7 separate regions of the Homo sapiens genome follow, and all the other regions are reported to be linked to region 7. Evidence: microRNA targets listed by miRTarBase, many of them from high-throughput screens and not tested one by one. Region 7 holds a microRNA gene; each other region holds the end of a gene's coding sequence.
The links. Region 7 holds the annotated microRNA hsa-miR-6788-5p (CUGGGAGAAGAGUGGUGAAGA, at 981-1,001, shown strand). A microRNA usually pairs through its seed, bases 2 to 8, with sites in the 3' UTR of a target mRNA and lowers its output. Matches are read on the target gene's strand: a 7mer-m8 pairs with bases 2 to 8, a 7mer-A1 pairs with bases 2 to 7 and ends in A, and an 8mer does both.

Region 1 (3,084 bases), not on the chromosome of region 7:
TAACCCAAGCACTGGGCTGCAAGACTTGGAAGGGCAGACACCTGGCTATACTCATCTGGGAGTCCTGCTGCTCAATACCAAGCCTGACTCAGAGCAGCGTTATGTCCAGCATGTTTATCCAGTGTATGGAAAAGGCTGTTGTATCCATCCTTGCTTTCTATACGTTTGCACTATTTCAAAATTAAAATATTAGCATGAAGATCCAACCACTGCAGCCCAACATCAGTGCTCTCAGCACTTTGCCCCTCAAATTGGGCCCCTCGAGAGGGCATCCTGGATGCCAGAATCCTTGAAAAGAACTAAGGAATGGCAGGAGTCCAGGGCCCCAGCAGCAGGTAACTCTGGCATGTGGCTCTGAGTTCCTGAGTCTTTCTGGTTTAAAGAGAAAGTTTCTTTTTTTTTTTTTTTGGAGACAGTCTCGGTCTGTCACCCAGGCTGGAGTACAGTGGCACGATCTCGGCTCACTGCAAACTCTGCCTCCCAGGTTCAAGCGATTCTCCTGCCTCAGCCTCCTGAGTAGCTGGGATCACAGACACGTGCCACCATGCCCAACTAATTTTTTTTTTTTTTTTTTTAGTAGAGATGGGCTTTCACCATGTTGGTCAGGCTGGTGTCGAACTCCTGACCTCATGATCCGCCTGCTTCGGCCTCCCAAAGTGCTGGGATTACAGGCAAGCCACCGCGCCCAGGCTTTTTTTTTTTTTTTTAAGACAGAGTTTCGCTCTTGTTGCCCTGTCTGGAGTGCAATGGCGTGATCTCAGCTCACTGCAACCTACACCTCCCCGGTTCAAGCAATTCTCCTGCCTCAGCCTCCCAAGTAGCTGGGATTACAAGCATGAGCCACCATGCCCAGCTAATTTTTCATATTTAGTAGAGACAAGATTTCACCATGTTGGTCAGGCTGGTCTCAAACCCGACCTCAGGTGATCCACCCACCTCGGCCTCCCAAAGTTCAGGGATTACAAGCATGAGCCACCGCACCTGGCCTAAAGTTTCTTTTCTTAGGTGAAAAGACCTGGCATCATCAGGGTCTAACTTTCCAGGTTTTGTAGGGTATGTTTAAGGCTGGGAAGAATCACAGTCCCCATGCTTTGATCTCCAGCTAAGCAGAGGGTGGGGAGGGATGTGTGCCCTTTACAGGAGGCCGAGAGGAAGCGACAAACGCCAAGTGCAATGGAGAGGGCTCTGCAATCCTATTTGGATCCCAAACCTCACTAACCCTTTTTTTTTTTTTTTTTTTTGAGACACAGTTTCACTCTTGTTGCCCAGGCTGGAGTGCAATGGTGCAATCTCGGCTCATCGCCACCTCCACCTTCCAGGTTCAAGTGATTCTCCGGCCTCAGCCTCCCGAGTAGCTGTAATTACAGGTATGCGCTACCAAGCCCGGCTAATTTTGTATTTTTAGTAGCGATGGGGTTTCTCCATATTAGTCAGGCTGGTCTCAAACTCCCAATCTCAGGTGATCCGCCTGCCTCAGCCTCCCAAAGTGCTGGGATTACAGGCGTGAGCCACTGCGCCAGGCATTAACCCTCTTTAATCTGTGTTTACCTGCCCACACCTGAGCCTGACCCCACAAACAATGTGACACAGTTTTAGCCCAGTCCCAGTTTATTGTGGAGGAAAATGGGGGACATGGAGCTGAGCAGAACAGACCCTTCCCTCTCCTCTCACAGGCCCCTAGGGAGATGGGTGTCAGGACTCAGTGAAGTGAAATGGGGCCGAGGAAGCCAGAGACTGACAAGAGAGCAAGAGAGGACAGGAGGCAGAACAACACTAGGACAGGCGGGGGTTGGTGGAGACAGTGAGGCAGGGACACAAAATTGCCAAGTCAGGACATCTGCACAGAATTCTATTCCTCATCCTTTTTTTTGGAGACGGAGTCTCACTGTGTCACCCAGGCTGGAGTGCAGTGGCGCGATCTCGGCTCACTGCAACCTCTGCCTCCCGGGTTCAAGTGATTCTCCTGTCTCAGCCTCCTGAGTAGCTGGGATTACAGAGGTGTGCCACCACACCCAGCTGATTTTTCTATTTTTAATAGAGAGCGGGTTTTACCATGTTGGCCAGGCTGGTCTCAAACTCCCAATCTCAAGTGATCCGCCCACCTCGGCCTCCCAAAGTGCTGGGATTACCGGCGTGAGCCACCATGCCCGGCCTCCTCGTCCTTCTTGCTGCTAGTTCAGTCTGGTACTGGGTCTTAGAGACATGGACAAGACAGGGGAAACAGAGCTAGATGTCAATAGGCAGGTGACTGGATTGAGAGGGATGGGGGATACTGGAACACTCAGATGATGGGGAAGGAATGGAGGAACCACTGTGCCTTTCTCAGGTCAGCCTGTCTGGGCAGAATCCACACTAGAGATTCTTTTCTAGGGGGAAGAACAGCACCAGAGCTCAGACAGGCACAGTGGCTCACACCTGTAATCCCGGCACTTTGGGAGGTCGAGGAGGGCAGATTACGAGGTCAGGAGTTCGAGACCAGCCTGACCAACATGGTGAAACCCCGTCTCTACTAAAAATACAAAAAATTAGCCAGGCGTGGTGGTGCACGCCTGTAGTCCCAGCTACTCGGGAGGCTGAGGCAGGAGAATCGCTGGAACCCGGGAGGTGGAGGTTGTAGTGAGCAGAGATCATGCCACTGCACTCCACCCTGGGTGACAGAGCGAGACTTTGTCTCAAACAAACAAAAAAACAGCACCAGAGTTCAAGAGAGAAAATTACACAAAAGTCATATAGATGCTAGTGGTACAACAGACGGAGGCCTAAGAAATCACAGTGACCAAAGAATGTGGGTGTTTTCAGAGAGGGCAGTGCAGGATGCTGAGGGTGTTACAGAAAGATATTTGCACTGTGGAATTCAGGAAGGGTGAGGTGTCAAGAGTCCAGCCTGGGGAAGAACCAAAAGTCCTGAACTATTGAGGAACAAGTACATGCGGCGCAGCTCAGCAAAAGACAAGCCCAGGTTCAGGGACAGTGTGACCATGGGGTCCAGGCCATCAGGCTCCGTCCCAGCATGGAAATTGGGGAGGGGCAGGGAGAGGTTCAGGGCCTGGTAGAACCACTGAATCTGGGAGTCAGACAGAGGCA
Region 2 (3,094 bases), not on the chromosome of region 7:
CATGAGTGCGACTCACGTCTATGACGTGAGCGATGGGAGTGGCCGTGGGCTGCGCAGGGCATTGGGGCCAGCTGATGTGTGGTCATTCCACTTTGTGATGAGCTTTGCTGCCCAGCAAACCTGCGCCTGCTCTGAGCATTGCCTCAGTGCCAGGCGTGCTGGCGCTGCTCCCACCTCCAAGCTTTCCCACTTTACAGAGGAGCCGGGGCCCTAAGCAGAACAAAGGCTTAGCCCTGCAGCGCTGCCCCATCCCTGGAGGCCCAGCGTTGGGGCTGTGGCGTGGGCGCCCTGTGTAGCTGACTTAGAGCATCCCGGACTGCTTCCTCGCCAGCCTTGCTCCCGTCTGAGGTCAAACGTGAGCGTGCCTGGTATTTGTTTTTGAAGTTGGCGCGTCCCTGGCTTATCAAACTATTTCTAGACAGTGGTGTATGGTTGCTGTGGCTGTTGTCTCCACAACCATTGGTCAGCCTTGCCGTCCTGGTCAGGGATTTGGAAAGGGCCCAGGCCACTGGCGGAAGTCCTCTGAGCAGGCAGCCGGTGCGATGCGGGCAGAGGCGTCAGCCACGGGGAGACAGGACACTGTGCAAAGGGTTCTGGTGACACCATCGTTTCTCACACTGCACAAGTTTCCTTTTTTTTTTTTCTTATTAGATGGTGTCTTGCTCTGTGGCCCAGGCTGGAGTGCAGTGGAGCGATCTCGGCTCACTGCAAGCTCCGCCTTCCGGGTTCAAGCGATTCTCCTGCCTCAGCCTCCTGAGTAGCTGGGATTACAGGCGCCTGCCACACCTGGCTAATTTTTGTATTTTTAGTAGAGACGAGGTTTCAGCATGTTGGTCAGGCTGGTCTTGAACTCCCGACCTCATGATCCACCTGCCTGGGCCTCCTGAAGTGCTGGGATTACAGGCGTGGCCACCGCGCCCGGCCGAAGTTCCACGCTTTTAACACACTCACAACTAGTCCTTTTAAAAAAACAGTAAAATTTTATTTATTATGCAATCATTTCCAAAGTAGACAGAGAAATAGATCAGATATCCCAACTGTATTGACTACAGAAAATAGTCACAACCACTTCATAGAAATTGTACTGTTTTTCCTAAATTAACAGCATATCTGGGTACACACAACATGTTTGAATATTTTAATCCCTGGCCAGGCATGCTAGCTCACGCCTGTAATCCCAGCACTTGGGGAGGCCGAGGTGGGTAGATCACGAGGTCAGGAGTTCGAGACCAGCCTGGCCAACACGGTGAAACCCCATCTCTACTAAAAATAAAAAATTAGCCAGGCATGGTGGTGGGCGCCTATAATCCCAGCTACTTGGGAGGCTGAGGCAGGAGAATCGTTTGAACCCAGGAGGCAGAGGTTGCAGTGAGCCGAGATCGCGCCACTGCACTCCAGCCTGGGTGACAGAGCGAGACTCCGTCTCCAAAAAAAAAAAAACAAAAAAAAAACCACACATTTAATCCCTAAGCATAAAAGATTAACTGGAGGCAAACTAAGATTGAGCTGTCAATCTGAAGTATTTTACTCAATAAGGGTAACCCCCTATTGGGCTGTCACTAGCGTGTCACCTCAGCCGAGACCAGCATGAAGGTCAAAGGCGAAGCCACCTCTGTAGACCCACCTCACCTGCCCCTCCCCCATCCAGTCACCTGTGCAGCTGGCTAGTCCCTCGGCCCCTAAAGACCTAATCAAGTTGGTGAGTTCAGACCCAACATCATCAGGAAATCTGTAAATTTGGAGAAACTTGTTTTCAAAGCAAAAACCCAGATGAAGAAAAAAAAATTTTTTAGGCCAGGCACGATGGCTCACACCTTTAATCCCAGCACTTTGGGAGGCCAAGGTGGGTGAATCACCTGAGGTTGGGAGTTCGAGACCAGCCTGAACAATTCTATATTGGTTTCTCCATGAAACCCTGTCTTTACTAAAAATACAAAAAATTAGCCAGGTATGGTGGTGGGCGACTGTAATCCCAGCTACTCGGGAGCTGAGGCAGGAGAATCACTTGAACCCAGGAGGCAGAGGTTGCGGTGAGCCGAGATCGCACCACTGCACTCCAGCCTGGGCAACAAGAGTGAAACTCCGTTTCAAAAGAAAAAATTGCTTTAAGTCTCCCTCGCTTGCCCAGGCTGGAGTGCAGTGACACAATCACAGCTCACTGCAGCCTCCAGCTCCCGGGCCCAAGTGATCCACCCACCTCAGCCTCCCAAGTAGCTGGGACTCTAGATGCCCACGACACACCCAGCTAAGTTCTGTATTTTTAGTAGAGACAGGGTCTCGCTATGTTGCCTTGTCCAGGCTGGTCTTGAACTCCTGAGCTCAAGTGATCCTCCCACCCTGGCCTCCTGAGTAGCTGGGAATACAGGTGTGAGCCACTGTGCCCAGCCAGAAAATCTTTAATTGACAAATATTTAAGGGACAAGAGGGTTTTAAGAAATTAAAAGGATGTATGAAGTGAAGTGAGTTGTGAACAGAACCTGGGTGCCCTCCTCATCCACGTGCCTCAGTCGCCCTCGTGCCTGACCGGCTTTGCCAATGGAGCCTGGACCCTCAGCACGGGTCAGCTGTGGGTGCGAACATGGTGGTCTGGGTCAGGCCTCTTTCAAGTCCCCACAACAGGCCTGACTTGTGCGTGAGACGCTTTCACCTTAAACCCCACGCCATCCTGGGGGTTCATGGTCAGGTATAAAACCCTGCAGAGAAGTCAGGCTGTCTGATCCCAACTCTCCCCTTCTCAGCCTGGTCACAAGTCAGTTCCCAGATGCAGCATTGCAGGTTTCTACTTTCCGCCGGTCTCCTTGGGAACAAAACGTTAAGTGTGTGCGGCCTGTGCAGGGAGGACAGAGGGAAGGAGAGGCCGGAGCCCTCAGGATCGAGTGATCTTGTCGGGAGGCATGAACCCCGTGTCCCCGAGGGTCCTGAGCGCAACTCGGCCGTTGGGTCGGATCACCAGGTGGGTGATGCTGCCATTATTGAGGGAGAGCCGGAGCCAGCCTTCAGGAGGAAACTGCAGTGCTCTGGGGAGAGAGAGAGAGAGAGAAAGAGCACGTTAGAGCCAGGGGGCTCTGTCCTTAAAACGGGCTGAGCTAGGCCG
Region 3 (3,094 bases), not on the chromosome of region 7:
ATTGGGCCACATTCCTGTCTCAGGGCCAGCCTTGCACTGCCTCTAGGGAGAGGAAGAAAAGTTGGGGTTTCCTTTGCCTTAGGGTGGGACATCCCTGCGGGAGGAGTGCTCTACTCAAAGTCTTCTGCTTGGAGAGCCCTGGGGAAGATTAACCCTTTTGTAAACAGGACCTTCTCCAGGGTCTCTCCCTGGGTCCATCCAACAAGATCCAGACTCTCAGATCCCAGCACCCCAAAATCAACGAGCTGTGCAAATAGCACTCCGACAGGCCGACTGGGCAGAGGACCCGACATTCGCATTCCACTCCCTCTGCATCCTCCCCTCCTCCCTGGGCTCCCAGGCGGTGCGGGTTTTCTTGCTGCGCGTTTAGGGCGAGGACGCTCCCGCCCCTTTCTGGGGGACCTGGTTATCTCCTTCGATCCCCTGTCAGCCCCTCTCCCGGGGCTTCCCTCGCCTTCGGTGGGCTGGCGCCTCCTCCCGATGGTTCAGCCCGCCCAGCACCACCACCAGCCCTCCAGACACCCGCATTCCCGTGCAGTCCGCCCGGCGTCAGCCGTCGGTCGGTCCACTCCTACCCGCAGCCTCAGTCTGCCCGGGTCTCACCTCGACGCCGGCCTCCGGACAGCTCCCGCTGCCGCTGCTGGCTTTTGCAGCAGCCGCAGCCCGGGAGGGAGCAAGTCAGCTAGGGAGGGAGGGAGGCGGCGGGTCTCCCTCTTCTCCTCTCCCGTGTGCTCATCCCCTCCTCTCCGGTCCCCTCCCCTACGCTCCGCCGCCGTCGCCGCCCCCGCCCCTCGCGAGCCTCCGGCCCCTCCCGCCAGCCCAAGGGAGCCACGCGTTACCCAGGCAACCGGCCCGGGGACCACTCGCGCCCCCTCCCTGCCCCTTCTCACGCGCGCCTCCAGGAGAGACGCCTCCTTCTTAAGTCCCCGGCCCCTCCCGCCAACGGTCACCGGGATTCCTGGAAGAGACGGGGATTTGGGGGAAACGGAGAGGGTTCTGCGAGGAGACGGGACCAGTGAGACAGGCAGGACCGGGTGGAGGCGTCTCTACGAGCAGGAGGGCAAGGAAGATGGGGCAAGACGCGGGGAGGCTGCAGAGGAGGAGCAGGGTGGGGTTTGGAGAGAATGGAGCCTGCAGAAAGGAGCGGCAGAAACTGGCGCTGGAAGGCTCAAAAAAGGGGCCCTGGAAAGGACGGAGCGGGGACAGGAAAGGGAATTCCAAGGGGCAGGAGGAGCTGGGCAGAGGAGCCCGTGTAAACACAGAGTGGCCCATGCCCAGGATGAGGGACAGGTGCAGCTTTCATTCTCTACCTCGCTGCTCCCAGTCCTAGGGCTCGGACTCCCCAGCCTTTCCGCAGCCGCATCCACCCACCATGGCCTCAGGGCCGTGACGCGCGTGGGGAGGGATGCGGCTGGGGGCTGAGCAGCGGCCATGAGTGTGGACGGGGGAGGGCGGCATTCCCGTCTGGCAGCTCTGTTTGGGTTTCTGACGGGGCCTCTTCAAACCTCCAGGGGCTATTCTGGGCCTGTCCGAGTTGGGAATTCCCCAGAGACCTGGAACTTGCTCTCCACAGCCACAGCCTTGGCCCCGCCCTGTATCTGTGCTGCCGCCAGTAAGGCTGCCCCTGGGGAGGGCGGAGCCAGAACCTCACAGCCTCACAGGGCAGAGCAAGGCTGGATTGACGGACACCAGGCCGAGAAGAAACCCTTGGGGTTGGCGGCAGTTCTTAGTGAGGGCAATTCATTCAATCCAGAGCCAGAAACAGGATTTTATTTAAAATTTATTGTAATGGGGTCCGCGCAAAAGGAAGGGGTGGAGGGTGGGGTACATGCAGGGGACACAGGAACACGATGACATGGCCAGGGCCACAACTTCTTCTGTCGTGGGGAAGAGGGATGAAAAGACAAGACCAGGGCTGGAGCTGGGGTGGAAGAGGGGAGGGGGACACTGGCTGCATTCCCCCGCCCCCAGGAAGCACCTCTAGGCCCTGGACCCCTCGCTCACCCTGGCCCCTAAGACTCCATCTCTTCTCTGCCTCTGGCCCTCCTGGCTCTTCCTCCTGCTCCCCTTGACTTTTTCCCCTGACAGATTCTCAAGTAGGACGATGTTCAGGGCCTGACCCCAACCCCCCATACCACCTTATGAAGGTACAACCTTTGCCGGCCCTGCTTCTGCCCCTCCTCAAACCTCACCGCTTTCCCTCTTTGGGACAGCTCTGATCCCCCTCCTTCCTCTCCTCCCTCCCCCTGGAAAAAAAAAAAAAAGGAAAAGAAAGCACCAACTCCCCGGGGAGGGGCTGCAGACAGCAGGGGGAGAGGACTGGAAGGAGAGAAGAGGACCGTCGAGGGAAGAGGCTCACAAGTCCCTGGGAAGACAGGGCATGGGCTTACAGAGAGGAGAGGGGGTACGGGCAGTGGCTGCTCGTGTCCTCTGCCACCCCTGCCCACTGTCCAGGGGACTTCAACACAACCGAGGGGACAGGTTTGTGTGGGGTCAGGTCTGACAGAAGAGGAGCAGGAGAAACAAATCGTTAAAACCTAGCGAATTCCCCTAAGAAAACATTTCTTCCTCCTTTCCTTCTGGAGGCTCCTTGGTTGGTAGGGAAATAGGAGTTGGTGGGAAAAGAGGGGGGAGAGGAGCTTGTACCAAGGGACTCTACTCCATTCTCCCCTCTCCCCCGCAACCAACTTGGAGCTCACCAGGGTTGGGAGGGAAGTGGCTGAGAGCTCACAGGCACCCCCTCCGCCCCCGAGAGGGAGCCCACAGCTGTGGGAGGGGCTGCTACTGCTGCCGCTGCTGCCGCTGCCGCCGCTGCCGCTGCCGCCGCCATTGGACAAACCTCACCAGTACCTGCACAGGAGAAACACCACGGATCACAGCGCGATCTGAATGGCAAGAGCCTTGCCCTCACCCCACACCTTCCCAGCCTGCTTCCCCTGGGACACAGCCGTTGCTCACTTCCTATCTGGACCCCAGAGGCCTCAGCCTGCATCCTCACCCAGACAGAGCAGTTCTCAAGGATCCTCCCTGTGCCCAGAAGTCTCCCTAGCCTGAGTGGTACATGGGCATCCCTCGCCTTCCTGAGATCCCCTAT
Region 4 (3,094 bases), not on the chromosome of region 7:
CCATGGGTGTGCTCAGATTGACTTCAGCTGGACCAGGCAGATCTGGGAGAGTTCACATAAACAAACAGTTTGGAAGGGAGGCTTTCTGCACTGTCGGAGAGGTCAACCATCTACCCGGCAATTATACTGCTGTCAGATTGTAAATACACATTTGCAAATGCTTCTGTAATTGTTCGGAAATAGTTCAGGCCTGTTCATGCAGGGCTGGTTACAGAATGTTAATGGGGTAACGTACCCAACATCTGCTTTCATGGTTGGAACCAGATCTCTGCCATTTAAACATATATGGGTATAAAGCAGCCAATCAGGTATTTGCCTTTGCCAACTCTCAGAAAAGAAAAACTCAGCCGCAATGGACAGTCACATGGCTGATTGATAGGTTTGGTGTGGGCATCACATTTTCAACTATAACAAAGTCTTATTAAACATGGTTTGGCTCTCTAAAAAGCTAATAACAACAATAAGATGTGAAATCGCCATCACAGAATTGTGGTTAGGTTGCTTGACTCACTTGCCTCTCTGGCCTCATGAAGGATGATGAATATAATTAAACAAAAAAATCCATGCTAACTCTAAAGCATGATATAGGCAGATACCCACATAAGAAGTAGAAGATCTCAAGGGTGCATTACAGAATGTCTGTCTTTTCGTCTTTTGATTTGGGGCTTATGCTTTAAATCACTATTTTGCTGCCGTCATCATCTCGAAACATACATCATTATCCCTCCCAATTGGTAGGCATATAAGCCTCTTATATTCCTCAATTTCAGCTGTTTTGGATGATTGCTGAACCCCACCTCCCACCCAGGGAGGGCATCCTATGTGTTCCCCAGAAGCCACATGTAAGGTGTCAGATTGGCCAGGCTCGGTGGCTCATGCCTGTAATCCCAGCACTTTGGGAGGCCGAAATGGGTAGATTACCTGAGGTCAAGAGTTTGAGATCAGCCTGACCAACATAGTGAAACCCCATCTCTACTAAAAATACAAAAAAATTAGCTGGGCGTGGTGGTGGGCACCTGTAATCCCAGCTACTTGGGAGGCTGAGGCAGGAGAATCGCTTGAACCCTGGAGGTGAAGGTTGCGGTGAGCCGAGATCACGCCACTGCACTCCAGCCTGGGTGAAGGAGCGAGTCTCTGTCCCAAAAAAATAAAATAAAATAAATAAAGTGTCAGATCATCCCCATTTCTAACTGCTTGCAACACTTCAAGTTCAGATGAATATTCTAGTTATTTTCAGGTGCTGGAGCGTATTGGTTAGCTCTGCTATAGAAAAGTGACTCCGAATTACAGTGGCAGACGGATGATACAGAATTTTATTCTTTTCTGATGTAACAGTACCAAGTGAAGAGCCCAGGTTAGAAGGTTACTTTGCTCCACAGAGTCATTCATCGATTCAAGCTCTGACATCTTTCGGTTCTGCCATTCCCCCAGAGAATGTCCTCATTTGTATGGTCAAGGCTGGGTTGCAGAGAAGTCCATGTTGCAGCTCATGGAAAAAAAGAACCAAAGGGACTCAAGAACACTGGCTTATGTCTTAGATTGGAGATGACCTGGAAAGTCAACTTTCACCCATAACCCATTGGCCTAAAGTAAGTCCCAGAGTCAACTTGAATTGCAAGGGATCCGGAGTAATGCTGTTTATACCTGGAGTGCTGGGGACCCAGCTTAAACTCTACCACCATAGAAGACAGGGAAGATAGATTTTGATGGATGACCAGAAGTTTCTGTTACATGTACAACAGATTAAAAATATATATATTGCCAGCTGGGTGTGGTGGCTCATGCCTGTAATCCCAGAACTTTGGGAGTCCAAGGCAAGTGGATCACCTGAGGTCAGGAGTTCGAGACCAGCCTGGCCAACATGGCAAAAACCCATCTCTACTAAAAATACAAAAATTAGCCAGGTGTAGTGGCAGGCGCCTGTAATCCCAGTTACTTGGGAGTCTGAGGCAGGAGAATCGCTTAACCCAGGAGGTGGAGGTTGCAGTGAGCTGAGCCAAGATTGTGCCACCGCACTCCAGCCTGGGTGACAGAGCAAGAGTCTCTCTCCAAAAAAAAAAAAATTATATATATATATTATAAATATATGTGTGTGTGTGTGTGTATATGTGTGTGTATATTATATATGTGTATATATATTGCCTACTGCAAATAAGGTAAATGCCACATGGTTATATATTCAAAAAATCTTTATTAAGGGCCTAGTATGTGCCAGATATTCTTTATTATATGTGTAAGAAAAATATTATTAACATATTGTGGGTGAAAATATGCAACACTATGAACATAGTTTTCATTTTTGAATGGCTTTTACTTTTTCAGACAATAGAAGGCAACTGGAAAAGAGGCAAGGATTCTAACTACATACTGCAGAAAAAATATTCACACCTGTCAAATTCCAACAGCTGGCATTGTTGTTGTTCTACGAATAAGCACACACAGAATCCTCGTGAATAGTTCTTTGTCTCTTGCTCTAGTAAATCATAACCTGCTTGTAGCTTTTTTATGAACCTTCAGGAATAACTCTTCAGAGGATGCTAATACATCATTAAGATTAAATTGAACCTCAAAGGTGGGTTTTTTTTCCAAAATGATAAAGGCCACCAACACTGCAAGGTTTGCCGTCATTCCCTTGATCTGGTAAGTGACACCGTCTTCAGGGTTTGTGTACTCAAAGATATGATTAATAAAACGGTGACCAAGACGTGTGACGTAATGCTGGTCATGGACCTGTGGATGCAGGAAATAGGCCAGAGGCACCAGGAATACATCCTTAACTTCAGCAGGATTCGGCTGGGCCTGGAAGTTGTGGTCTATTAAACCCACAAATGGAGTTATCAATGTATCTGTCTAAAAGCAGAAAACAAAACAGACAAATTAAGAAGTGAAGTGATACTGCTTCAAATCCTAAAATCATGCCACTTCTAGGTGAGCTAAGAAAATACACCGAACCTGGGAGAAGGGGAAGAAAGCTTATTCCGGAAACAAATTTATGTTCCCCCTAAAATGGGAGTCATCCTGCTCTACCTGAGGTGACATCTATGAGATGACTCTGAAAATGATTTCTTGTATGAACATAAAGTAGTACAATCTT
Region 5 (3,089 bases), not on the chromosome of region 7:
AAATAAATCTCAGATCTGATTATTTTGATTTTTTTAGAAGAAATCCTCTTAATTTGTTGGTGGAAATACATTTATTTAGTGGGGAAGGAAATAAATTCTTGATGAAATTGTAGAGATTTTTTCCTTAGTTTTGCTTGGAAAGGGAGAGTGTGGTATAGTCAAACAAACAAACAAAAAACAGTGGCCTTTGACTTGTAACCTTGGGAAAGTCACTTAGTCTCTCAAGGCCTCAATTTTCACTGTAAAATGAAGAAATTGGCCTAGCTAGAGGAACCCTGATGTTAGTCCTTTCCTAAAATGCTGATGTTCTGTTCTGTGAATATATTATTTTAATTTTCATGTGAAAGGTAGATAAGGAGACAAAATGTTAATGAATATTTATTTTATCAACTCGTTTTTTTCTTCCTATTTCAGGATGGAGACAACAGAAAATGGAAAAGCCAGCCGGCAGTGAAGAGTGACTTGAAGAACTAAATTTAGCATATTGCAAAAATATTTTGTGCGGAATTCGATATAAGTACTTTTACAGCAAGATGGTATAGTTATGTTGCCTGGACTGGTTTTTACATTTTTAAAATATTTCAGCTGTCATTTTTGTACTAATTATAAAATTGGCACATAATTCAAAAATATACATTTGAGATGATTTGTCCTCCCAAATTATACAAGTTTATTTTATGGTATAAAGTGTTCTCTCTGGAAATGTTTTTAAAAAAATTCTTAGGCTTCTCTTTGCGAAATAAAACTATTAAAATATTTGAAATGCAAAACATTGGAGAATTACTTTAGAAGATACTTTAGTTACTTAATGACTGAAAACAACCTATAGGAATTTTTAAAAATTTGATGAGAGTTTAAGATTTGCAATACTTAATATAAAATTTTGCCTATTAAGCTGCATCATATATTGTGCTTTTCTAAAAAAGAACATTGTTTTTATCTTGTTTTAAGTTATTTTGCATATGTGTTCTTACCCATTTAAAAGTAGAGCTTTCAGGTAGGTTGTATAATTTTATATTTACTAGTATTGGGTAGTTTTACTCTTTATATTTTTCTGCAAAATATTTTCCATCCATTTGCTTTTCTTATTGAAAGAGAAGCGTAAAGGAAATTACTTCACAGATTTAGAAGAAAGAAAAGTTACTAGGTTGATTTTATCTCTGGATAGAATCTTAGTCTCATTTCTCAGAGATGTCATGGTTACATGTTATATGTTTCTTGGGCCTTTTTCCTGTGCTGCTTCATCTAGAAGTTTATAACATGTTACAAAAGGTAGGTTATTTCAATGTTAAATGCTAATTGTAAGTTTGCCATTTTTTTCCTTGAGTGTTTATTAGAGAAAGGAAGCTCTTTATACAGACTCAGTATTTTCTTTTTTTTTTTTTTTTGAGACGAAGTCTCGCACTGTCGCCCAGGCTGGAGTGCAGTGGCGCGATATTGGCTCACTGCAACTTCTGCCTCCCGGGTTCACACCATTCTCCTGCCTCAGCCTCCCAAGTAGCTGGGACCACAGGCGCCCACCACCACGCCTGGCTAATTTTTTGTATTTTTAGTAGAGACAGGGTTTCACCGTGTTAGCCAGGATAGTCTCAATCTCCTGACCTCATGATCTGCCTGCCTCGGCCTCCCAAAGTGCTGGGATTACAGGCCTGAGCCACTGCACCCGGCCCTCAGTATTTTCTATTGAAAAAAAAAAAAAAACAACTGGTCTTTACACAGGGGTTCAGCAGCCTTCCAGGTCAGCCTGGTGAAATTGACATTGCTCTCCTTTATCAACTCCTGTCTCATTCTCAGTCCTCTTCCCTCAGATAGAGCTACTTTTACTCCATTCCACTGTGTTTAGATATACATTGACACAAACCATACACAGGCAGGGCCAGGCCTAATTAACATCTTAGACTTTCGGGGTTTAAGGAACCATAACCCAATAGCTAATTAATAGATCATATTTACTTTTCAGTGGGCTCTGACCTTTTATTTATTTATTTTTAAATTATACTTTAAGTTCTGGGATACATGTACAGAACGTGCAGGTTTGTTACATAGCTATACGTGTGCCATGGTGGTTTGCTGCACCCATCAACTCATCATCTACATTAGGTATTTCTCCTTATCTTATCCTTCCCCTTGTTCCCCCACCCCCCCGACAGGCCCCAGTGTGTGATGTTCCCCTTTCTGTGCCCATATGTTCTCATTGTTCAGCTCCTACTTATGAGTGAGAACATGCAGTATTTGGTTTTCTGTTCCTGTGTTAGTTTACTGAGAATGATGGTTTCCGGCTTCATCCATGTCCCTGCAAAGGACATGAACTCATCCTTTTTTATGGCTGCATAGTATTCCATGGTGTATATGTGCCACATTTTCTTTATCCAGTCTAACATTGATGAGCATTTGTATTGGTTCCAAGTCTTTGCTATTGTGAACAGTGCTGCAACGAACATACGTGTGCATGTGTCTTTATGGTAGAATGATATGTAATCCTTTGGGTATATACCCAGTAATGGGATTGCTGAGTCAAATGGTATTTCTGGTTCTAGATCCTTGAGGAATTGCCACACCGTCTTCCACAATGGTTGAACTAATTTACCCTCCCACCAACAGTGTAAAAGCGTTCCTATTTCTTCACATCCTCTCCAACATCTGTTGTTTCCTGACTTTTTAATGATTGCCATTCTAACTGGCATGAGATGTGATCTCATTGTGGTTTTGATTTGCATTTCTCTAATGACCAGTGATGATGAGCTTTTTTTCGTATGTTTGTTGGCCACAAATGTCTTCTTTTGTGAAGTGTCTATTCATATTCTTCGCCCACTTTTTGATGGGGTTGTTTTTTTCTTGTAAATTTGTTTTAAGTTCCTTGTAGATTCTGTATATTAGCCCTTTGTTCGATGGATAGATTGCAAAAACTTTCTCCCATTCTGTAGGTTGCCTGTTCACTCTGATGATAGTTTCTTTTGCTGTGCAGAAGCTCTTTAGTTTAACTAGATCCCATTTGTCAATTTTGACTTTTGTTTCCATTGCTTTTGATGTTTTAGTCATGAAGTCTTTGCCCATGCCTGTGTCCTGAATAGTATTGCCTTGGTTTTCCT
Region 6 (3,094 bases), not on the chromosome of region 7:
GCAAATTTCAGAACTGTTATTTAAATGGAATGAACCATTAAATGAAACAACAGCAAAACATGTTCAGGAATTTTATAAACTTGATGAGGACATTATCCCAGAACTTAGATTTTATCGACATTATGCAAAGCTTAACTTTGTCATAGATGATAGTTGCATAAACTTCGTCAGTCTCGGCTGTTTGTTTATTCAGCATGGTCTTCACAGTAATATTCCTTGTCTCTCAAAGCTATTATATATTGCTTTGTCTTGGCCAATTACTTCAGCAAGTACTGAGAACTCATTTTCTACCCTGCCTCGTCTTAAGACATATTTATGTAATACCATGGGACAAGAGAAGCTTACTGGCCCAGCCCTAATGGCTGTTGAGCAGGAGTTGGTAAATAAACTAATGGAGCCTGAAAGACTCAATGAAATTGTGGAAAAGTTTATCAGTCAGATGAAAGAAATATAATACATGCTCATTTGAACTTACCTAAAAGACTTGTATTTCCATTGGGATGTTTTCATTTCAAAATTGTTCAAAATTCAAAAGACACAGAACGATAAACAGTGAAGTCTCCTTCCCTCCTTTAGAACTCATTTTCTCTTCCCAAAAAGTGTTATCTTTTCCTTAAATATCCCTCTAGAGGTATTTTTCCTAAGTGGTATTGTACGGTGTATACTGTTCTTCAGCTTGTCTTCTCTGTGTAACATATTTTTGAGATTGTCCCATGTCGTTACATGAAGAGTTTCTTGATTCTTGGTCTATAATTGCAGATGTTATTGTATGAATGTACCATAATATATTTGAGCAGTCCCTGCTGACATTTTTTTCCTAACCTTTTGCTATTATAAATAATGATTCATTTTATAACCTTTTATATAGGTCACATTGCACATGAGTGAGTTTACTGTAAGCTGGAAATCTAAAGTTAGAATTACTAGGTTAAGATATGTGCATTTTTACTTTTGATAGATATTGGCAAGTTGCCATCTATAAGGATTGTGCCAGTTTACAGTCCCACCCACAATGCATGAGAGTGCCTATTAAATCTTTGTAAGTGTTATCAAATGTTTTGATCTTTCCTAATCTCTTACTTTAAAAATGGCGTTTTAATCTCAGTAGAATTTTGTATATTCACTTAAGAATAAGGTTGGGGACTGGGCGTGGTGGTTCACACCTATAATCTCAGCCCTTTGAGGGCCTACACAGGAAGGAAGATCGCTTGAGGCCACGAGTTCAAGATGAGGTTGGCAACATAGTAAGACCTCATCACTACAATTTTTTTTTTTTTAAATTAGTGAAGTGTGGTACTGCACACCCGAAGTCCCAGCTACTTGGGAGGCTGAGGCAGGAGGATTGCTTAAGCCCAGAAATTTGAGGCTGCAGTGAGCCATGATTGCACCACTATGCTCCAGAGTCTAGGCAACAGAGTGAGACCTTATCTCTTTAAAACAAACAAGAATGAAGTTAGGTATCTGTTTATTTGTTTGAGCCATTTGTATTTCCTTTTTTGTAGACTGTCCTGTTTAAACGTTAAAATCACTGCTGTGGTTTTGATTTATACATCTCAGCTGGATGGCACAATAAATTATTAAGCCATGTTATGAAAATATAACTATATTTAAGTAACCTGCAAAGAAAAGACTATTTCTTTATACTTCAAAAAAGTTTTGTTTTTGTTTTGAGATGGAGTTTTGCTCTTGTTGCCCAGACTGGAGTGCAATGGTATGATCTCGGCTCACTGCAACCTCCGCCTCCCAGGTTCAAGTGATTGTCCTGCCTCAGCCTCCCAAGTAGCTGGGATGACAGGCGCACGCCACCACGCCTGGCTAATTTTTGTATTTTTAGTAGAGATGGGGTTTCACCATGTTAGCCAGGCTGGTCTTGAACTCCTGACGTCAGGTAATACGCCCACCTGGGCCTCCCAAAGTGCTGGGATTATGGCATAAGCCACCACGCCCAGCCAGAAAAGTTTAAATAACAAAGAAAATGTGATATTCAAAGATTTGAAAGAATTAAGTGGTATATATATCTAGGCCTGGAATTTTTTTTTTTTTTTTTTTTTTTTTTGAGACGGAGTCTCGCTCTGTCGCCCAGGCGGGAGTGCTGTGGCGCGATCTCCGCTCACTGCAAGCTCCGCCTTCCGGGTTCACGCCATTCTCCTGCCTCAGCCTCCCGAGTAGCTGGGACTACAGGCGCCCGCCACTGTGCCCGGCTAATTTTTTGTATTTTTAGTAGAGACGGGGTTTCACCGTGGTCTCGATCTCCTGACCTCGTGATCCGCCCGCCTCGGCCTCCCAAAGTGCTGGGATTACAGGCGTGAGCCACCGCGCCCGGCCTTTTTTTTTTTTTTAAAGACTATTTCTCTGGCACTTTTCTCCAGCTGTTTCTCCCTTACCCTCTCATCAATTTTGATAACTTGTACTTTTTCTAGGAGAACATCTATTTCATTGAGGCTTTCTTTCAAATGCATTTGCCTAGAGTTGTAGAAAATATTCTCAGTATCTTCTATATACCTGTTTTACTTTCTTTCTTTCATTTTTTAAGACGGAGTCTCGCTCTGTTGCCCAGGCTGGAGTGTACGGTGGCGTGATATTGGCTCACTGCAACCTCCACCTCGCGGGTTCAAGTGATTCTCCTGCCTCAGCTTCCCAAGTATATGGGATTACAGGTGCCCACCACCACGCCTGGCTCATTTTTTTGTATTTTTAGTAGAGATGGGGTTTCACCATGTTGGCCAGGCTGGTCTCGAACTCCTGACCTCAGGTGATCCACCCACCTTGGCCTCCCAAAGTGCTGGGATTACAGGCATAAGCCACCATGCCCGGCCCTAATTTATTGATTTCCACCTTAAAAAAGAGAAAACAGGCCTGGCGCAGTGGCTCACACTTGTAATCACAGTACTTTGGGAGGCCGAGGCGGGCAGATCACTTGAGGTCGGGAGTTCAAGACCAGCCTGACTAACATGGAGAAACCCCGTCTCTACTAAAACTATAAAATTAGCCGGGCGTGGTGGCACATGCCTGTAATACCAGCTACTCGGGAGGCTGAGACGGGAGAATAGCTTGAACCCCAAAGGCTGTGGTTGCAGTGAGCTGAGATCGTGCA
Region 7 (3,000 bases):
GAATAAAGTATTAATCTTCTGCCTGGGCACGGTGGCTCACGCCTGTAATCCCAGCACTTTGGGAGGCCAAGGCAGGCAGATCTTCTGAGGTCAGGACTTTGAGACCAGCCTGGGCAACATGGTGGAACCCCATCTCTTCTAAAAATACAAAAATTATCCAGGCGTGGTGGTGCACGCCTGTAATCACAGCTACTTGAGAGGCTGAGGCAGGAGAATTGCCTGAACCCAGGAGGCAGAGGTTGCAGTGAGCCAAGTTTGCACCACTGCACTCTAGCCTGGGTGACAGGGCAAGATTCCATCTCAAAATAAATAAATAATAAAGTATTAATCTTCTTTCTTTTTGTGCATTCTGAAACCATAAGCTGCAGCCAAAATGAACTGTTTTAACCTAAAACGATTGTGATAGTGCCTGTGCCTTCATAGAATGAAGTAGGAATGGTGATGTTTCATGAGGAGATCAAAATGGCTGTTCTCTTTATTGTCTGAAGTGGTTATGATAACAGCTACTTAGTCAGTTTTTCCCTGGGAGTAATCTGTACAGTATTTCTGTCTTCACGCTGAGACACTCAAAAGAGCAAGCATTTGTGAATCTGTGCAGACAGACTTGCCCTGAGGGACATGGGTCTCCGCCATCTACACAGACCTGACACCTATCACCAGTCCCCTTTCCCATATGCCTGATTTTTTTTTTTTGCCTCTTTTCATCTTTACACAGACCTGTTTCCTAATGTCAGTTAACGTCATTGGCCAGCGAATGGATTTCTATGCCATGATCCACGCCTGCTGGCTGATCGCTGTCTTATATAGACGCAGAAGGAAAGCCATCGCAGAGATCTGGCCCAAGTACTGCTGCTTCCTGGCATGCATCATCACCTTCCAGTATTTCATCTGCATTGGCATCCCACCTGCTCCTTGCCGAGGTGAGCCTGCCCTTCCCTTGAGCCGTCTACTTTTAGAAGAAGCCATTACTGAGCGGACGGCTGGGAGAAGAGTGGTGAAGAAGAGTATTGATTGTGCTGTTCGCCACTTCCCTCCCTGCAGATTACCCGTGGAGATTCAAGGGTGCCAGCTTCAATGACAACATCATAAAGTGGCTGTACTTCCCAGATTTCATTGTGCGGCCCAACCCTGTGTTTCTCGTCTGTAAGTGTTTCCACTGCAGGGCCACAGAGTGCTGGTATCCGGGTTTACTGTTAATCATTGTTCACGTGCTATGCATTAGTGCCTTTTGTCTTCCACTAGACTTCGTAATCATGTAAAGGCTTGTCTTATGCATTAATATCACAAGTCATTAATGGCTTCTACTCACCCTATTACATTTGCAAAATTAATAAATCAGTGTTGGAAATGCCATATTCACTTGCATAATTTCACTTCCCCCAACACACACACACAAACACACACACACACACACACACACATTTACACAGCCACCTTTCAAAAGACAGACCAGAGAGGAAGGCTTTTGTGTTTTCTGACTTGGTGGTTTCTGGCTCCCAGTGCAGATAAATAAACCCTGAACATGGGACAGTGGATGCTGGGAGATGCTTCCCAGATTTTAGTTGCTCTAGAATTGGGCTGCAGCCCCAAGGCCTTCCCATGGCAGCTGGTGATCCAAAGGTCAGAGCAGCTCCTCCAAGACCAGAGTGCTGGGTTTTACAGAAAATGCAAATGACTGCCCTGCCTAAACAAGTTTAGGTTTAATTTTAAAAGCAAGGAAGCAGCTTGTGTTCAGGCTTCCAGGCAGGCTTGGCCTCAGCCCTTTGTGGGCAGTTGCTGGGAGGACAGCTCTCTCAGGCTGCGCTGTGCTGTCCAGCACAGTCCACCACCTCCACCTGCTCTCACCACACTTGCAGTGTGGCTTCTGCTTTGGGGACAGTCTTTGGTTACAAATGCAAAGGAGGATGGAAAGGATAAAGAAAAATGAATGTCTGCATCCACCACACATAAAAAGATAAAGATGGGGAAATTGCTCAAGTGGCCTCCTTAAAACTGGTGGGAGGTAAAAAAAATTAGCCAGGCATGGTGGCGGGCACTTGTATTCCCAGCTACTTGGGAGGCTGAGGCAGGAGAATGGTGTGAACCCAGGAGGTGGGGCTTGCAGTGAGCCAAGATCGCACCACTGCACTCCAGCCTGGGCGACAGAGCGAGACTCTGTCTCACACACACACACACAAAAATGTTACCCTCTAAGAGACTCATGAAGACTAGTAAGTAGCACCTAATATTTCTCTCACCGATGTGCAAACAAAATTCAGAGACTCCCCACGTAAGCTCCTGGAGTGTCTGTGGTCACTCTATGCCCTGCAAGGTGGAGAAGGTGTGACTTGGCCCCGACATTGGACTCCAGGATGAATTTTACTATGAACTTTGGGAACACAACTCACTTAGGAGCTGGGGAATGGCTGTTGCTGTGTGATGACTGTGTGTTGCATTATGTAAATCAGAAGAGGATGAGGCGGCTTAATGATCTCACCTCTGTCTTGTTAGATGACTTCATGCTGCTTCTGTGTGCCTCCTTACAACGGCAGATTTTTGAGGATGAGAACAAGGCTGCAGTGCGAATCATGGCAGGTGACAATGTCGAGATCTGCATGAACCTTGATGCGGCCTCCTTCAGCCAACATAACCCTGTGCCAGATTTTATTCACTGCAGGTAACAAGAGCTTCACATTTGCTAAAAGCCACTTTGATGTGTGCATTTCCATTACATTGCTCCTCTATACTTTCTCTGCTATACTTGGGAAACAGATCTGCTGAATTGTATACACTGAAGTTAATAAATGCTGGACAATGTGGTTCAGCAGCCTGGAGGCTGAGCCTCTGAATTATAGCACTGCACCTGCTTTTGTCAATGTAAACCGCCTCTTTATGGCCTCAGTTCTCCTCCTCTTCTTCATACCAAAACTGACTTGTGCCAGTAATACCAGCTCTCCAGTGGAGGGTCCTCCTGCTCATCTCTTATCCCTCCTCTGCATCCCCATAGCTCATCCTCATCTT

Region 1: miRTarBase lists LY6G5B as a target of hsa-miR-6788-5p. Seed matches in the 3' UTR shown: 7mer-A1 at 2,432-2,438.
Region 2: miRTarBase lists PGAM5 as a target of hsa-miR-6788-5p. Seed matches in the 3' UTR shown: 7mer-A1 at 1,863-1,869, 7mer-A1 at 1,831-1,837 and 7mer-A1 at 1,318-1,324.
Region 3: miRTarBase lists MAZ as a target of hsa-miR-6788-5p. The part of its 3' UTR that is shown has no 7-base or 8-base seed match.
Region 4: miRTarBase lists NUDT7 as a target of hsa-miR-6788-5p. The part of its 3' UTR that is shown has no 7-base or 8-base seed match.
Region 5: the mRNA of INTS13 is a reported target of hsa-miR-6788-5p. Seed matches in the 3' UTR shown: 7mer-A1 at 653-659.
Region 6: miRTarBase lists ZMYM1 as a target of hsa-miR-6788-5p. The part of its 3' UTR that is shown has no 7-base or 8-base seed match.

The regions. Positions count from the first base shown.
Region 1 is chr6:31,672,053-31,675,136 of GRCh38, reverse strand. It overlaps LY6G5B (lymphocyte antigen 6 family member G5B), which reads right to left. Exons shown (of 3, transcript NM_021221.3): 3 at 1,591-3,084. The coding sequence ends at 2,855. Among named protein-coding and RNA genes, the nearest start is that of LY6G5B, 3.6 kb to the right of the region's middle.
Region 2 is chr12:132,720,601-132,723,694 of GRCh38, reverse strand. PGAM5 (PGAM family member 5, mitochondrial serine/threonine protein phosphatase) reads right to left here. Exons shown (of 6, transcript NM_001170543.2): 6 at 961-3,017. The coding sequence ends at 2,867. Among named protein-coding and RNA genes, the nearest start is that of PGAM5, 11 kb to the right of the region's middle.
Region 3 is chr16:29,809,833-29,812,926 of GRCh38, reverse strand. MAZ (MYC associated zinc finger protein) reads right to left here. Exons shown (of 5, transcript NM_002383.4): 5 at 1,763-2,850. The coding sequence ends at 2,696. PRRT2 (proline rich transmembrane protein 2) reads right to left here and starts at 734. Exons shown (of 4, transcript NM_145239.3): 1 at 604-734. MVP-DT (MVP divergent transcript) reads left to right here. Exons shown (of 4, transcript NR_186424.1): 3 at 2,754-2,892. RefSeq lists silencers at 732-881, 1,282-1,361.
Region 4 is chr16:77,741,338-77,744,431 of GRCh38, reverse strand. NUDT7 (nudix hydrolase 7) reads right to left here. Exons shown (of 4, transcript NM_001105663.3): 4 at 2,172-2,850. The coding sequence ends at 2,482. LOC107984878 (a long non-coding RNA gene) reads left to right here. Exons shown (of 6, transcript XR_002957866.2): 6 at 1,432-1,562. Among named protein-coding and RNA genes, the nearest start is that of NUDT7, 20 kb to the right of the region's middle.
Region 5 is chr12:26,902,862-26,905,950 of GRCh38, reverse strand. It overlaps INTS13 (integrator complex subunit 13), which reads left to right. Exons shown (of 17, transcript NM_018164.3): 17 at 415-770. The coding sequence ends at 454. Among named protein-coding and RNA genes, the nearest start is that of INTS13, 34 kb to the left of the region's middle.
Region 6 is chr1:35,114,806-35,117,899 of GRCh38, forward strand. It overlaps ZMYM1 (zinc finger MYM-type containing 1), which reads left to right. Exons shown (of 10, transcript NM_024772.5): 10 at 1-1,054. The coding sequence ends at 454. Among named protein-coding and RNA genes, the nearest start is that of ZMYM1, 37 kb to the left of the region's middle.
Region 7 is chr18:10,757,625-10,760,624 of GRCh38, reverse strand. MIR6788 (microRNA 6788) reads left to right here and starts at 976; the gene lies at 976-1,041. PIEZO2 (piezo type mechanosensitive ion channel component 2) reads left to right here. Exons shown (of 56, transcript NM_001378183.1): 25 at 716-920; 26 at 1,042-1,143; 27 at 2,491-2,656.